4 linked regions of the Homo sapiens genome follow. The protein of the gene in region 1 purifies or fractionates together with the protein of each later gene. This does not show direct contact. Each region holds a gene or a part of one and is shown in the gene's direction. Other genes may lie near its edges.

Region 1 (5,064 bases):
TTATTAACTTCTGCCCATCTTCTTCCCATAATATTTTGAAATAAATCTCAGACATCATGTCATTTCTTTCCCAAATATTTTAGTATGTGTCTCTGTAAGGGCTCTTTAAAAAATGTAACCACAATACCATTAGCACACCTAAAATTACTTAATATCATGACATTTCCAATAACTATTCACATTTCTAATTGCTTAATAATTACCATTAATACTTTTTATTTTGTTTGATTGAATTAGGATCTAAGTAAGGTCTAAAAATTGCTGTTGGTTGATACGCCTTTTAGGTCTCTCTCTTTTGATCTTACAAGCTACTTCTCTATCTCTCTTTTTTCTTTTTATTGCAATTTAATTGTTGAAGAAACTGGATTAGTTGTCTTATAGATTTCCCACAGTCTGAACTTTACTGATTACATTCCTGCAATGTCCTTTAATATGTTCCATGGAGTTTATCCTTTTAACTCCTGGAATTTTATAATATTATTCAACTATTTGACATCATTCCTAACATTTCTCATTAAATCTTTATATGATTTCAAATCTCCTCAAACCTCTTTTTATAATAAATCAGAAAAAAGAATCCGATCATTTGTTTGAGACTTTGTACAGATGTGTTTAACTTAATCTGATCCAGTTGTGTGCAGCCTTGTAATTGAAAATCTAGTCAAATGGTAGTTTTCCCAAGGGACTAGACTTACTAGTAAACATTAAAAGTAATTTTTGCAAAAAGACCCTTGTAGGCAATTGCCACAGACCCCTGAACTGTGATAAAATAAAATTTTGCATTAAAATGAAAAAATATTTTTAAAATTTGACCCTTAAGAAATTAATAAAAGAACCAGGCTTATTGAAAGTGGGATCACAGCCTCATATACGTTGACATATAAAATATTATATTAGACATATAAAATTTCTCAGCTTTTCTAGCATGCTGATGTCTGAAATGGTGTAAATGGGAGAGGTGGCAGTTCTTTCATGCTGCTTTGACTTCTGGTTATTTTTGTGTAGCAGCTTTCATTGATGGGGTCCATTCTTGGCCTTGCCTAATCATTTTTCTTGGATGATATAGAGTGTTACAAAAGAATTATTATCTTAATGAATCAGGAATGTTCTCTCTATTTGTTTTCTGACATAGGTAAAGTGGGAAGGATTAGAACCTTCAAGGTGAAATGTCAAACTAGAAATTTCCTTTTATAATCTGCTTGTGTTCCCCTTGGTTTTAGGAGCTGGGAATCCCAAGTGCAAAATTGCAATTGTTTTGGGAAGAACTCAAAATACTTCTCTCTCCAGGTAATTAAACAATTCTGATTGAGAAACCTGTGTAGGAATGAGCCAGTCTTCCTCCTATCTAGGTAATTTACTTAAAATTCACTGTTTGGACTCACAAATCATAATGTAAGATATGAGAGTAAATGTCATATATTTGTATTTCACAAGTATTTTCTAACAGGTGTTTTTGGAAAACATTATAGGGAGTATTGCTGAACATTCTTCGCTGTGGAATTTTCAGTATTAGAAAGTGTTGCTAAATTATCAAAGCTGTTTGGATTAAATTATCAGACAAATTTTTTCAGACCTGTGTAATGAAGTGATTAGATGTTTAGATCAAAGGCAATAATCTTGAAATGTTTAATTATATATATAAGTTCCCAGTTACCATTGTTGAGCAGTGAGAAGCTTCAATCAAACAACTCATTTATTTTCAAATCATTGTTTCTGTTCCAGATCACAGCCTGCATCAGACTATGTTGGTGTACGTCTTTTACACAGTTCCCATTCCAGTCATCACTGCTTACATGACTACATGAAAACATCAAAAAGACAATTGTGATTCTGCTTATTATCTGTTTTATTTTTCTTCTTAGCAAACTTTTTCTAATACAATTTTTCTTTTGACTAGACACAAACAGCACAGCATGATTCTTGTTCCCATGAACACACCTGGAGTAAAAATAATAAGGCCTTTGTCAGTTTTTGGCTACACAGGTAGGTATCCAATAAATATGACCATGCATTAGCAAGCAGGAAGGCTAGAATATGCAGTAACATTGAAGGCAATAGCATTTTAATGCATAAGATAGATTCTTAGATATTCCTTTGTCTGTGACAACTGTCTTAATATAAATGCTGGTGGAGTTCAGAGTAGAGCCAATAAAAAGAAATAGTATAGCATTTATGTAATTTATAATTATATAAATTATAGAATTTATAGAATATAAATTCTGCCTTTTTGGGAAAGGGCAGATTGTATTTAAGGAAGAGCAACACTACCAGTCTTTTCTCTGTCATTCATAAAAATGGATTAATGCACAGATAATCCACAATAAAATTATTTTTATCTCCAATTTTAGCCCTCTTAATCAATCAACTTACAAGAACTGTTAAAAAGCAATGAGTTTTTGACTTATTTGAGTGCAAAATTTTCCTTCCTCTGCCCTTGGGTGGGACTTCTAAGAAGCAAAGATCCATTTGTTTCCTGCCACCTACTGTGGCACGTGTTCATTGTGTACAATAAATATTTGCTAAGATCACCCTCTCAGCAAGTATTTGCTTAGCCACCATGCCCAGCTAATTTTTGTATTTTTAGTAGAGACGGGCTTTCACCATGTTGGCCAGGCTGGTCTCGAACTCCTGACCTCAGGTAATCCACCCTCCTCGGCCTCCCAAAGTGCTGGGATTATAGGTATGAGCCACCGGGCCCAGCCCCTGGCTTTCTTTTTATCATTGAATATGACTAATGAATATGTTCAAGTGGCAGATATAAGACTTGCAGTTTTATAGAATCACTTATCAGTTAAGATGCAGCTGTAGAGTATACCCACAGGGTAAGCATAGGTGGCAAGATGGGATGAGCAAGCTTGCTGGAGAAAATTGCATGTAGGAAATTGTTGGGTTGCAGCGAAACGGCCGCAAAGATACCAAAAATGCGTTTATAATATAGTTGAGCTGCAAATAATTTCCATTGCAGAGGCTACATTTGATTATTCAGTATGAAAACTTTACTAGCACCTCTCCAACTCCCTGTGTCCAGGGCCAAAAGAAACAGTGTGGAGAAGGCTGATTATTGTCTCCTCTGACAGGAAAAGGGTGTAGAGTTAGCATGAGATTATCTCTAAAACTTGGCAGGGAGAAGGGGTGATGCAAAGATAAAATGTGAACGTGTTCCTGGCCTCAGTGTTTCAAATGCCAGTATTTTCAAGAGACGAACACACAGTGGAACAAGTCTAGACTGGGAGTAAACCTACCTGAAGGTCTAGTTTCTGTATCATCACTAATGCCAAGCCTGCTCTTTCCCCTCAAGCAGGCCCCTGTCATCTTTAGGCGTTGGTTTCCACAATGATAAAATAAGAAACATGGATTACATTACTCATTTTTAATTTTTGAAACATTGAAACTTTTTTCCATGCAAATTGTTTGGAACCCCATATGTAAAATATTTCAAAGAAGCAGCAATAATAAAACAAATAAAATACTCTGGCTGGATCTATGGAGCCTGGTCTTCCTTTTTCCTAGCTCTCTGAAATTGTACTTCAGAGAATGAATTAGAAAACATCTGGATCAAAGGGTTTCTCTTCTTGAACAGTTGATGAGTTTTCTGGGCTGCTGGGTCCTGGGGTTCAGGGCTGAGGCTTACCTCAGAATGTTCATGCCATATGGATCTTTGAAATCCTATTTTCTTCAAGTAATTATATTTCAGCAGATTAAGAATATGTGACTCTTTTTTAGTCAACTCCTTTTGCTCTAAATTTTATTTTCTATTTTATAGATAATTTTCATGGAGGACATTTTGAGATCCATTTTAATCAAGTGCGAGTTCCTGCCACAAATCTAATACTAGGTGAGTTGAATTTGGAAATGATTCTTCAGTATTGTACATTAATATTTCAGCTCTAAATCTGGAAAAGATAAGTCTTTCCAGATTTAGACCTGAAGTCTACCTTGATTTAGATATTAGGTTCGTGCAAAAGTTATTGCGGTTTTTGAACTGCAATTACTTTTGCACCAAGGTAATTGCAGTTTTTGGCAAAAGCCGCAATTACTTTTGCACCAACCTAATACTTTCCCTTCTTGTTTACTCCATTTGTCAAGGGAAAGTTTTCTGTTTGGCGGATTTTCTTACATGGAATGGTGAGGTTTTATTTAAGTGTTGGATGTGGTTTTCTATATCACATCAATTGAAAAGATAATATGAAAATTATATAATTCAGAGCAATACACTTTCTCCTAGAACATGATCTGTAGGCCTCTATTTGTTTTAAGAAAACCTCAGTACTTTATGAATTCAAGTATTAGATATAAGTTAGAAGCATAAATAACTTTGAACACTGTATGCCATCCTCTTGCTTATTAGAATACTATATCCCTTTCAAAGAACATCTAGAATACCACCTCTTCCAGGAATGTTTTTGTGTTCATCCCATCCATTCACCAGGCCCCTGATACCTGCCAGGCCCTGAGGTTATAATGATGAACAGAAAATCTCTTCTTCCTTTGCCTTTGTTTCTCTCTGTATCTCTTACCCTTACCCACTCTTCTGGATTCTAAACTCCTAGTACAGGGACTATGTGTTATTCCAACTTTGTATCTATTGCAGCATTAATAAAATAGCTTATGCATAGTACATACTTAAGAGACAGTTCTGAAATTTGAAATGTTTAATGGTGGTGGTTTTAAAAACATAGAAATCAAAATTCCCATGAATTCATAGTGAACCTTATTATAGAACTGACTTTTTTTCACTAGAAAGCCATTTTTATTAAGGGCAGCTCATCTCTTTCCCAGGATTTGTATAAATAACAAAAGGAATGGGCTAGGCCATTTTCACATTCCCCCTTTTTTTCCCCTTTCTTCCCAGGTGAAGGTAGGGGATTTGAAATTTCCCAAGGCCGCCTTGGACCTGGCAGAATCCACCACTGTATGAGAACAGTAGGTTTGGCGGAACGCGCTTTGCAGATCATGTGTGAGCGGGCAACACAAAGGATAGCTTTCAAGAAGAAGTTGTATGCACATGTGAGGACGATTACTTATTTGAATTTATTGTAGCCCGGTGCACTACACTAACATTGA
Region 2 (4,214 bases), about 64 Mb from region 1:
CTAGAACGTATGGTCATTTTTCCGTTTATTTTCAAATACTGTTTCTGTAGTTAAAGCAGCTTAATTATTCATTTATCATTCACTTTTTAAATCTTTGTCCTATAAGGAAGTAAATGGAAATATTACTTCCTATAAGCAAGGAATTATTATATTTGTATATTTTAAAATAAGCCTTTGACCAGTTAAATGCGGCTTCCTGGCTCAATATGAGGATATTTCTTTTTAGACCTTGGGTTTTCACCCATGGAATCAGTAAGCAAATATTAGAAGATAATTTATTCTGGGGCTGAGTGGGGTGACTGACACCTGTAATCCCAAGACTTTTGGAGGCCAGGGCAGGAGGATCATTTGAGGCTAGGTGTTCCAAACCAGCCTGGCTAACATAGTGAAACCCCTGTCTCTACAAAAAATATAAACAACAAAAAAAGAAAATAATTTATTCTGGGGGATTCATACAAAAAAAAAGCTATTTGTGAGATGATGTAGACCTTCTTAAAACAGAAGATATTCTCAGTCTCACATTTTTCAGTACCCACAAAATGATGTCCAGTATGTTCTTGGATTGTTATTACACCAAATTCATTGATTCTTAAGATTTTCCCATGTCACACTGATTTGGAAAAGAATACTGTTCTAGGATAAATTTATTCCAAAACTGTGGTTTCGTGTCACTGTTCTTTCCTAGGCAAAGATTTGAGGCAGCATTTGCTTATTTGCTTTTCTGCCATTGTTTTCCACTCAGCAGCATTTCATGGGTCTTTATGCTGACAAGGGACTGACAGGCAAAAAGTACGCACTAACGATTGATGTATCGATATCTGTTGTACGAATCGTAGAGTTGTTTGGGGATCATTCTCAAACATTCTTTGACCTTGTAATCCCAATTTTTGGAATCTACTCCTAGGAAGACAACTCTTAAGAGAAAAAACTCTCAGCAGTTTTTACTAAAATGTTTAGGGTGATTCTCCAAAACAGCATATATGCCTAATAACTGAGATTAATATGATGTTTAAAAATGTTCCAGAAATGATGTTGAAGAAAACAAAGTAAAATATACACACCAATTGCATTCATTAAAAAGAAGTATAATTGGCTGGGCGCGGTGGCTCACGCCTATAATCCCAGCACTTTGGGAGGCTGAGATGGGTGCGTCACCTGAGGTCAGGAGTTTGAGACCAGCCTGGCCAACATGGTGAAACCCCGTCTCTTTACTAAAAATATATAAAAAATTAGTCAGGCATGGTGGCACACACCTGTAATCCCAGCTACTCGGTAGGCTAAGGCAGAAGAATCACTTGAACCTAGTAGGTGGAGGTTGTAGTGAGCCGAGATCGTGCCATTGTTCTCCGACTTAGGCAACAAGAGCAAAGCTCGTCTCAAAAAAAAAAAAAATTGTTGATGGAGGTTGCAAGAGAATAAAATTACGTGACTTGTTGATCTTAAGTTTGTTGAATCCTTTTCAGGTAAAGATGTTTAAACATACATTAAAAATTCAGCCATTACCGGTCATGATGAGTCACACCTGTAATTCCAGCACTTTGGGAGGCCAAGGTGGACGGGTCATTTGAGGTCAGAAGTTCGAGACCAGCCTGGCCAACATGTTGATACCCCATCTCTACTAAAAATACAAAAATCAGCCAGGCGTGTTGGGGCACGCCTTTAATCCCAACTACTTGGGAGGCTGCGGCGGGAGAATCACTTGAACTCAGGAGGTGGAGGTTGCAGTGAGCCGAGACTGCCCCACTGTACTCTAGCCTGGGCAATAGAGTTAGACTCTGTCTCAAAAAAAAAAAAAAAAGAAAGAAAGAAAGAAAGGAGAGAGAGAGAGAGAGAGAGAGAGAATCAGCTATTATAACAAATAACTGGATAAAAGAGAAATGAGTTCATTTAAATTTGAGCAGTGCTTGAAATGGACAGTATAGCTATAAATGCATATGCGAAGTAAATATATAGAATGTATAAATGCTGAAAACTCTAGATGTCGTATCTGGCAAAAACTTAGTATTTTTAATGAAAGACAACAACCTCTGAACAACTACGGAAACATCTGTCACTAAGTAGAAATTATTTCTAACAAATGTGTAACTTTACTCTTGCAGGCCAAAGAGTGTGGCCAGATGCAAAATAAGTGGCTGATGATAAACATTCAAAATGTTCAAGACTTTGCATGTCAGTGCCTCAACCGCGATGTGTGGAGCAACGAAGCTGTGAAGAATATTATCCGGGAACATTTCATTTTCTGGCAGGTGAGAAGGAGAGTTAATCAGAAGTTTTGTAGAATTTTACTTTTGTAGTGTGGGTTGTTGAGGGAAAGGAATTGGGTTATAATGAATTAAGACATTTAAAAAAAGGTAAAGCCGGCTGGGGGCAGTAGCTCACGCCTATAATCCCAGCACTTTGGGAGGCTGAGGCCGGCGGATCACCTGAGGTCAGGAGTTTGAGACCAGCCTGGCCAACATGGTGAAACCCTGTCTCTCCTAAAAATACAAAAAATCAGCCAGGTGTGGCAGCAGGCACCTGTAATCCCAGCTACTCGGGAGGCTGAGGCAGGAGAATCACTTGAACCCGGGTAGCGGAGACTGCAGTGAGCCAAGATCACACCATTACACTCCAGCCTGAACAATAGAGCTAGACTCCATCTCAAACAAAACAAAACAAACAAACTGTACTGTTCAGTAGAAATATATTGTAAGCTGTACACATAATTTAAATTTTTCCAGTAGCCACATTAAAAAAGATTAATCAAAATAGATGAAATTAACTGTAATAATGTATTTGGTTAAATCAATATATCTATATAACTAATACAAAAATAATGAGATGATCTGCATTTATTTGGTGTTGAGTCTTCAAGATATGGTTTGTATTTTATACTTACACCCCTTCTCCATTTGGAGTAGCAAGATTTCAGGTGCTTCAGTAGCCACTTGTGGGTAGTGGTTGCTGTATTAGACAGTGCAGGTATAGAAGATCTTGAGGTAATTGGAAGCATTTGGCTAAGACTTAGATTTTAGCTTGAGTTTGATACTTTTTAACTCTGTGTTCTTAGACATGTCACTTTAGTCTTCCCAGCTAATGAGATAAGGTTACAGACCTTGTATCATTTTTCCCCCACTGTGAGACAGGGTTTTGCTCTGTCACCCAGGCTGCAATGCAGTGGCATGAACATGGCTCAGCCTTGACCTCCTGGGCTCAAATGATCCTTCCACCTCAGTTTCTTGAGTAGTTGGGACCACAAACATGCACCACTATGCCCATATAATTTTTTTTTTTTTTTTTTTTTTGTAGAGATGGGGTCCTGCCATATTGCCCAGGCTCGTCTCGAACTCCTGGGCCCAAGCCATCTGCTTCCCTTGGCTTCCCAAAGTGCTGGGATTATAGGCATGAATCACCGTGCCGGCTCAATTTTTTTATTTTTTATTTTGTGAAAAGTTATAGAAAATAAAAACTTATGAAGGAGCTTAATTTTTTCCCCTACTGTAAGATATGCTATTAATGTTATTAATTTGCCTGTTTATATTTTACAGGCCCCTAAATTTAATGTAACTTTAATGGTAAAATTCCTTGTATTTTATTCAACAAATATTGATCGAGCAGCTCTTTGCTTAGCACTGTGCTGGACTCTTGAGCTTATAATCTTTTTTTCTTTCTTTCTTTTCTTTTCTTTTTTCTTTTTTTTTTTAAATAAATGGACAGGGTCTTGCTCTGTCACCCAGGCCGGAACACAGTGGTGCAGTCATAGCTCACTGCAGGCTCTAACCCCTATAGGCTCAAGGGATCTTCCCACCTCAGTCTCCTGAGTTGCTGGGACTATAGGTGCACACCATTAAACCTGGCTAATTTAAAAACAAACAAACAAACAAAAAAAAACAAAAAAACTTCTCGTGGAGATGCCCAGGCTGGTCTCAAACTCCTGGCCTCAAGCTGTCCTCTGCCTCTGCCCTACAAAGTGCTAGGGTTATAGGTGCGAGCCACCATGTGGAGCCATAATCTTTTTTTTTTTTTTTTTTTTTTGAGACAAGTCTTGCATTGTCGCTGGGCAGGAGTGCAGTGGCACGATCTCAGCTCACTGCAGTCTCTGCCTCCCGGGTTCAAGCGATTCCCCTGCTTCAGTCTCCCGAGTAGCTGGGACTACAAGCGCCTGTCACCAGGCCCGGCTAATTTTTGTATTTTAGTAGAGACGGGGTTTCACCATGTTGGCCAGGATGGTCTCA
Region 3 (4,214 bases), on another chromosome or scaffold:
CATATGAGTTTCGGTAAAATTAATGCAGGGTAAACAGTCTTATGCCTAAATAGCACTGTTAAGGCAGCATTTGATAGCTGATATTCCGTGATTATGACCTTGTGCCATCAAAAGTCCATTTGAATTTTATTTGGTATATTTTTATGAAAAGAGAGTATGTGATTATTTTAACATGTTCATGAAAATGGTTATGACTTTTTTAACTTTTGGAAAATAAAAGGAGTAAGCTTCATATATTTGGAAAATTCATGCTTGTTTGAATAAAGAATTACTGTAGTGTGAAACGAAGCTGATAGCTTAAGATATAAATGACAACATAGAATTGTTCCTTGAGTTATATTAATATACTTTTTGAATTTTTTTGACAGATTGTTTAACAAACAACAGTGAAGAATTATCAAACAGCACAGTATATTTCCTTAATCTATTTAATCACACCCTGACCTGCTTTGAACATAACCTTCAGGTATTTTATATATAATATTTAAAATTAAAATGCTGCCTTGTACAAAGGAATAATGTGCAGTTCCAAGTTTTTAGAGCACTAATTATTGATATTTATCTAAATTCATGATGTAAAGGAGTTAGTGGACCTGGATTTCTGCTCTTAAGTAAGTTCTTCTACTTACAAATCATGAAAACCTCAGTTCTCTCATTGTAAAATGGAGATAATATCTATCCTGCCTATCTTAAAGTATTTTGTAATGAGAATCTGGTGAGATAATGATTGTGAAAACATTGATTGAGGTGTGTGATTGTTTAATTAAAACACAATGGTTTTCAATCTGACTTACGTAGGTATTTTGCAGTGTAGTATGATTCTGTCTATAGGAAGTTTATTCTTTGCCTGAAATTTGCTTAAGTATGTTTTACCTACCTTAAAAAGCACTGTTTAGTAAGATAACTTTGAGTATTGAATTATGATAATAAAAGGTAGCTTTAAGAATCTTAACCTTGTAGATTATTGCCATCTCTATCTCTGACTCTTGAATTTTGGTATTGGAACTTGCCCGGTCGTGGTGAAGGACGAGGTTGGAACTCTGGTTAAAATGTAGTTTTGAAACTTACATAACAAGTAAGTAATCCCCATAGTAGATGTACACATGCTTAGGGTATAAGCATGTATGATTTCTTCTGTAATAAATGTGGTAACACTGAATTATGAATTTCCTTGAGAATAATAAAAATTGGGCCAGGTGCAGTATCTCATGCCTATAATCCCAGCACCTTGGGAGGCCAAGGCAGGCAGGTCACTTGAGGTCAGGAGTTCGAGATCAACCTGGCCAATATGGTGAAACCCTGTCTCTACTAAAAATACAAAACTTAGCCAGGCTTGGTGGTGCACGCCTGTAGTGAAGTAGAGGTTGCAGTGAGTTGAGATCGTGCCATTGCACTCCAGCCTGGGCGTTGCAGAGAGACTCTGTCTCAAAAAAATAAAATAAAAAAAATTAGGTGAACATTTCTCAGAATTTGTTCTGCAGCATGTTAATAGATGTCCTATCAGAAAGGGTTTAGTATTCCATTAAGGTTGGGAAATGCTTTACTACAGGACTTCAGAGCCTTTAGTGGACTGATGTGTGTTGTAACACTCAAATAGCAATTTTTCTATAAAGTCATCCCTTTTATATATGGCTTCACTTTCCACAGTTTCAGTTACCTGTGGCCAACTGCAGTCCAAAAATATTAAATGGAAAATTCTGGAAATAATAAGTTTTAAATTGTACACCATAAACAGTCTTCTTTTCATTTAACTTAGAGTACTTGTATGAGTTTGGTAGATTTCTAGAAGTAGAATTACTATATTGGCAGCCTAAGAAAAAGACACTAGAGAAAATTATCTCCAAATATGATGAGTTTATTAGGGAATAAGAAAGAAGTATGGTAATTTGGAATGCACTGGCAAACCACCAGTACATCCAGTGAGGGAAGGGTAAAGGGAAGCTTTTATTAGCAAAAAGGGAGAGGTTCACACAAGCTGCTTGGAAACTGAGTTCATTGGTTCCTGAGGCTCAAAGCCAAGTTGTCAGTTCATTGGTGGCGATGCCATTACTGGGCAAGTGTTCTTTTGAGTGCATCTTATCTGAATTACTGCAGTCCTAAAGAATGGCAGTGATAAACCATGTGAAAGCAGGAGTTGCAATGAAGGGCGTGAAAGGATTTCTTGTGGGGTTTTTAGAAAGTCTTTGGAAACAAGGACTCTTTTTGTCTCTATTTTGTCTTGGTCTGTCAAAAGGTGATTTCATCCTAATGTCTGCAACTTTCACATTATTAAAAGATATGTGCATTTTAAATTTGAATAAAAATTGTGGCCAGGTATGGTGGCACCTGCCTGTAATCCCAGCACTTTGGAAGGTTGAGGTGGGAGGATCATTTGAGCCCAGGAGTTAGAAATTAGCCTGGGCAAAATAGCAAGACCGTGTCTCAAAAAAAAAAAAAAAAAAAAAGGTTAAATTACTCCCCATCTAGATTATGTGCACAATTTTAGTTAAATGGATTATGTGCTCAATTTTTTTTTTTTTTTTTGAGACGGAGTCTCGCTCTGTCACCCGGGCTAGAGTGCAGTGGCGCGATCTCGGCTCACTGCAAGCTCCGCCTCCCGGGTTCACGCCATTCTCCTGCCTCAGCCTCCCAAGTAGCTGGGACTACAGGTGCCCGCCACCACGCCCGGCTAAGTTTTGTATTTTTAGTAGAGATGGGGTTTCACCGTGTTAGCCAGGATGGTCTCGATCTCCTGACCTTGTGATCCGCCCACCTCGGCCTCCCAAAGTGCTGGGTTTACAGGTGTGAACCATCGCGCCCAGCCCTGTGCTCAATTTTTAACTAAGTGCACAATTGTTCTGTGAAAAACAAGCAATGGGCTATTTCTTGTAGCAGACTAAGGAGAGACTTAGTTTTTCTGTCAAGCAGATGGTGAGGGTAACATTGTTGGGCCAACATCAGTGTAATTACTTTGATTTTTCTCTTTTCTCTTTCATCCCAATGTTCAGTTAATATTCTTTCTTCATACTACAAAGTAAAGAATAAAGGGCATAGAAAGCAAAGGTGTGAACTGACTGTTTAGCAAACTTATTCTTGAAAAGACAAGTGTCAGTCTAGAAGTACAAAATATTGAGATTTAGTAGCATAATATTTTATGTACCTCCACTATCCTCATTTTAGGTTATACAATTCTTTGGTATTTGGCCCTTTTTGTTGACTAGAAAGGCCTGGATTATGAGCCTTGTGATAAGAGAGTTGAGTGGGGATGCAGTTTTGGTGCCTTTTCCCTTTCCATTTAAAAAGTTCTGTCTCAGTAAGATAAACTATGGTGTTCAAGTCAGCATAGGCAGGAACCTATTTTATTTATTCAGTGAGAGTAGGATAGATAAGTGAGGGTTTGTGATGATGAGATAATTTAGGAAATTTTGTATTTAGTTACTAGTCATTTGGCATATGAATTATTGTTATCCTCAGTTAACATTAGCTAATGCAGCAGTTTTGAAAATTTAGAGGCACCTAGAAAGTTCCAAACAGTTTGCCATCTGCTTCACATACCGGGTCTCTAATCCTTCGGACTTATAATACAGGTAGAGGTCGTTTTATTTTATAGATGATAAAACTGAGACTCAGAGTGATTTAGTAACCTACTCAACATCACAGCTTAGCACTTTAACACACCATATTGTTTCCCGTCTTCTAGAAGCGTAAATAGCTTACATTAAAGAGATATTGTATATAATGTTTATTGTATATATTACATGTGCCTTTGTCATTTTAGGGGAATGCACATAGTCTTTTACAGACAAAAAATTATTCAGAAGTATGCAAAAACTGCCGTGAAGCATACAAAACTCTGAGTAGTCTGTACAGTGAAATGCAAAAAATGAATGAACTTGAGAATAAGGCTGAACCTGGAACACATTTATGCATTGATGTGGAAGATGCAGTAAGTACTTTGCTTCTGATGTGATACATATTTTAGAGTGTTATTGAATGTACCTTCAGTATGATTATTATTTTTGGTGATAGGGTGGAATCTGCATATTCTGTCCTCAACCAAAAATAACTAGTTATAAAGTAGTAAAGTTTTAGAATATCCTGGTCTGTTAAACCAAAATGGATATTTCCTTAGTAGTCTCATGGTTAGGATAAAAATAAAACAGAAATTAATTAGGTACTTCATAAGTGAGTTGATGCTTTGGTACATTTTAATCTTTTTAAATTTGAAAATATGT
Region 4 (4,214 bases), on another chromosome or scaffold:
GGAGTGCAGTGGTGCAATCTCGGCTCACTGCAAGCTCCACCTCCAGGGTTCACGCCATTCTCCTGCCTCAGCCTCTTGAGTAGCTGGGACTACAGGTGCCCGCCACCATGCCCGGCTAATTTTTTTGTATTTTTAGTAGAGACGGGCTTTCACCGTGTTAGCCAGGATGGTCTCAATCTCCTGACCTCGTGATCCGCTCACCTCGGTCTCCCAAAGTACTGGGATTACAGGCGTGAGCCACCGCGCCCAGCCTAATCATTCTTAAAATACTCTTATGAGGCAAGTATTATTATATCCATTTTACAAAAACAAAAACTAAGACTTAGAGAAGTAAATTGCCCAAGGCCAACAAAGTTATGAAACCTGGATTGGAATACAGGTCCATCTGACTTCAGTTTAACCATTTACAAACTAATTCTAAAAATAAAACATGCTCCTGGTACAACCACTACATAGTACAGTAGGCAATGTCCTATAATAATAGTTATCGCCAGGTGCAGTGGCTCATGCCTGTAATCCCAACACTTTGGAAAACTGAGGTGGGAGGATCACTTGAGCCCAGGAGTTCAAGACTAACGTGGGCAACGTAGGGAGACCTTGTCTCTACAAAAAATTTAAAAATTAGCCAGGTGTGGTGGCACACACCTATGGTCCCAGCTACTCAGGAGGCTGAGGTGGGAGGATCGCTTGGGCCCAGGAGGTTGAGGCTGCAGTGAGCTGCGATTGTGCCACTGTCCTCCAGCCTGAGCAGCAGAGCAAGACCTTATCTCAAAAAACTAAATAAATATCGCTACTTTCTCTCTTTCTCTTATCAAAAGTCATGGGCACTTTTTCATGTTGATATATATAGGACCATCATTTTAGAGGATGAAGGGTATTTTCTTGTAAAAGACCATGCTTGTAAAAGACCACACTACACATGGTCTCACAGGGGGTGTCTGACAGCTTATACTCCCTCCATCTCTTTGCCTCCCTCCATCACACAGGTTGTAGCAATAGGGACCCCTTTTCCCTTACTGAACCTTTATTGTTGTAGAATCAGCAGGCAGAGGAGCCTTGAATCTCCTCTTGACCAACATGTAGCCCCAGGCATAGTCACAGCTCTGGGCTCACCGAAGGCTGAGGCCTCTGCCCCCTCTTCTGGTCCTGCCTCCCACCCCCTGGTCATGTAGCACCTTGGCAAAGTCACAGATACTCTCCAGCAGCAGCCCTGGGTGCAGGGTCCAGCTAGGCAGCCCGAGTTTGGGGTCAGGACCAGAAAGAGATAATGGTGTGGAGTCTGACCTCAGTGTCTAGAGAGTGGGGAAAGCCATCTAGCATCTAATATCCAGGAGCCTGAGTGATTAAGTTCTAGCCATGGCTCTACAACCAGCTCCCCATGGGACTATGAGCAAGTCAACTTCCCTCCTGAGCCTCACTTATCTGCAAAATGGGGGTCATAATTTAACCTCAAATAATTGTTATAATAGGCCAGGCACAGTGGCTGACACCTGTAATCCCAGCACTTTGGGAGGCCAAGGCAGATGGATCACTTGAGGCCAGGAGTTTGAGACCAGCCTGGCCAACATGGTGAAACCTTGTCTCTACTGAAAATACAAAAATTAGCCGGGCATGGTGGCGCATGCCTGTAATCCCAGCTACTCGGGAGGCTGAGGCAGGAGAATCGCTTGAACCCAGGAAGCGGAGGTTGCAGTGAGGCAAGATCACACCATTGCACTCCAGCCTGGGCAACAAGAGCAAGACTGTCTCAAAAAAAAAAAAAAAAAAAAAAAAGGAAAAAAGAATTGTTAAAGAGGATGTGTTTTATAAATGGCAAAATGCTCACCAATAAAAGGGGTTATTACTATCCTTGTTGGGTGGGGGTGGGGGTGGGCTGGACATGGTAGAGGAAACCAGAAACCGGTGGTGACTTATACTCCCTACTCTCCCTCCCTCAATCCCTGTGAAGGAAACAGCTACATGATTCAGCGCAAGGAGTGGGACTTATCTGAGTATAGTTACAAGGACCCAGAGGACCAAGGAAACCTCTATATTGGTGAGTACAGTAGTGGTAGCCCATCAAGTGGTAGAGGGGAAGGGGGCTTAGTCCCTGGTGGAAAGGTGAGGCCAGAGTGCAGTTGTGACTAATGGCATTTAGTTAAACTAGCACACACGGATTGGCCGGCACCTGTATGCCAGGCCCTGTTCCAAGCTCCCAAGATGCAAAGTTCTTGACTTCAGGATGCTCACAGTCCAGTGTCCAGGCAGAACTGGGCCATGGCTGCTGGCCATCTGGAGTCTACTTTCTTGCCCTACTTGGAATAGTGGGATAGAACATCATGGTGGGGGGCAAGAGAGGGAATAGGGAGATGGGTCCAGAGTAGAAAGAGACGAAGTTGACTGGGACCTTGGTTGAACATCTTCCCTCTATCCCAGGGTACACGATGCAGGTAGGCAGCTTCATCCTGCACCCCAAAAACATCACCATTGTGACAGGTGCCCCACGGCACCGACATATGGGCGCGGTGTTCTTGCTGAGCCAGGAGGCAGGCGGAGACCTGCGGAGGAGGCAGGTGCTGGAGGGCTCGCAGGTGGGCGCCTATTTTGGCAGCGCCATTGCCCTGGCAGACCTGAACAATGATGGGTGAGAATCTAGGGACATCCTCTGGGGCCAGGGAGAGCGATGGGCGGGGGAAGGCTTACCTAAGCCAGGTGAGGGGAGTGGAGGATTTGCAGTTGTGCGGCTGTCTGCATGTTGTTTGCAGAGGTTTGCAGTCAGGCTTTATGGGAGTCTGAGCACCTGCACATGGCATTTGTGGGACCCCTGCGTTTGCTTGTTTCTGCTTGGGATTTGTATGCTCCAGTGGATGTGGATTGTTTGGGTTTGATTTGTGCCTGCATGGCGTCTCCATGACATATGTCTTCTATTTGGTGGGTCATATTGGCATCTCCATGTCCTTCCCATGCACATGTCCTTCCCACCCATGACCTGTGGCCGGAAGAGCCATTTGCAGAGCCCTGTGCCCTGGCACAGTCACACCTGTCAAACAAGAACTATGCTGCATATTGGAGGCTGACCTCACACTCCCATTTCCCTCCTCTCCTGTGTAGGTGGCAGGACCTCCTGGTGGGCGCCCCCTACTACTTCGAGAGGAAAGAGGAAGTAGGGGGTGCCATCTATGTCTTCATGAACCAGGCGGGAACCTCCTTCCCTGCTCACCCCTCACTCCTTCTTCATGGCCCCAGTGGCTCTGCCTTTGGTTTATCTGTGGCCAGCATTGGTGACATCAACCAGGATGGATTTCAGGGTATGAGCCAGCACTCCTCCCCCAGCACCCCTCCTCCAGCACCCCTCCTCCCAGCACCCCTACTGACTGAGCACCAGCTGCACATCAGGCTTGACAGGGCCCACAGATGAGACAGGATGGGGCCGGACCTGGGGAGCTCGCAGCAGTACTAGAGAGAGGATGTGCAGATGTGCAGAGGAAGCACAGAGGCAAGCTCAGTGGGCCTCCTGGAGGAGCTTGCATGCCACTGTGCAGCCAAGGCTGGGCTGAGAGTGCACAGTAGAGAACTGATGGGGCACAACATGGGTGTGGAAACTGGCCTGGTGTGCCCAAATCTAGCGGGTGTAGAGTGTTCACATCAGAGAGGAGGCTGGAGGGGGAGTGGGGTGGGGTGGGGTGAGGATGGATGCTTTGAAAGCCAGGCAGAGTATCTTAGGGATTTATATTTGGGTAATGGTGATGGTGGGGTCATGGGGCATCCAGAGAAAGTTTTAGGGCAGGGATGTGATATAATAACTTTGTACCCTGAAGGATGATTCTGGAAGGGGTATGGAATGAGTGATTGCAGGGATGGAGCAAGGCCAGGGGAGTTAAGATCAAGAATGTAATATCTCAGGTGGGAGATGATAAGGAATGGGACAAGGTGGGAGCCCTGGATATAGGGGTCCTCATAAGTGTTCTGCAGGACTTGGGGACCAATCGGACCTGGGGTATCAGGGACAGGGGCAGACCCAGGGCTGGAGTCAGTGCCATGGGGGCACCTGGCTTATCTGAAAGTCACTTCTCTGATAATCTCAGTTTCCCAGGACATAGCTGAGAACCAAGAGGAAGGCAAAGGAGCCTCTGAAGACCCAAAATAGGTGCCAGAAAGTTCAGTCACCAGAGGCCAAGTGTGCACTGTGGAAATCATTTGGTTTCGGCCTGGGACCTGCTTCTGCTCCCTTTACA

The links. The genes of interacting proteins can lie anywhere in the genome.
Region 2: the proteins of ACAD11 (region 1) and UBXN7 purify together in Homo sapiens (affinity purification with mass spectrometry; 2 studies listed by BioGRID, with this or other methods). This does not show direct contact.
Region 3: the proteins of ACAD11 (region 1) and OSTM1 fractionate together in Homo sapiens (co-fractionation; one large-scale study listed by BioGRID). This does not show direct contact.
Region 4: the proteins of ACAD11 (region 1) and ITGA3 fractionate together in Homo sapiens (co-fractionation; one large-scale study listed by BioGRID). This does not show direct contact.

The regions. Positions count from the first base shown.
Region 1 is NC_000003.12:132,575,715-132,580,778, reverse strand, and holds part of ACAD11 (acyl-CoA dehydrogenase family member 11), read left to right. Parts: intron 1-1,220; coding exon 1,221-1,287; exon of another isoform or gene 1,288-1,897; coding exon 1,898-1,983; intron 1,984-3,763; coding exon 3,764-3,835; intron 3,836-4,852; coding exon 4,853-5,007; intron 5,008-5,064. UniProt on the Homo sapiens protein: Acyl-CoA dehydrogenase, that exhibits maximal activity towards saturated C22-CoA.
Region 2 is NC_000003.12:196,369,928-196,374,141, reverse strand, and holds part of UBXN7 (UBX domain-containing protein 7), read left to right. Parts: intron 1-2,099; coding exon 2,100-2,246; intron 2,247-4,214. UniProt on the Homo sapiens protein: Ubiquitin-binding adapter that links a subset of NEDD8-associated cullin ring ligases (CRLs) to the segregase VCP/p97, to regulate turnover of their ubiquitination substrates.
Region 3 is NC_000006.12:108,050,742-108,054,955, reverse strand, and holds part of OSTM1 (osteopetrosis-associated transmembrane protein 1 precursor), read left to right. Parts: intron 1-368; coding exon 369-466; intron 467-3,757; coding exon 3,758-3,925; intron 3,926-4,214. UniProt on the Homo sapiens protein: Required for osteoclast and melanocyte maturation and function.
Region 4 is NC_000017.11:50,068,896-50,073,109, forward strand, and holds part of ITGA3 (integrin alpha-3 preproprotein), read left to right. Parts: intron 1-1,948; coding exon 1,949-2,035; intron 2,036-2,415; coding exon 2,416-2,623; intron 2,624-3,090; coding exon 3,091-3,287; intron 3,288-4,214.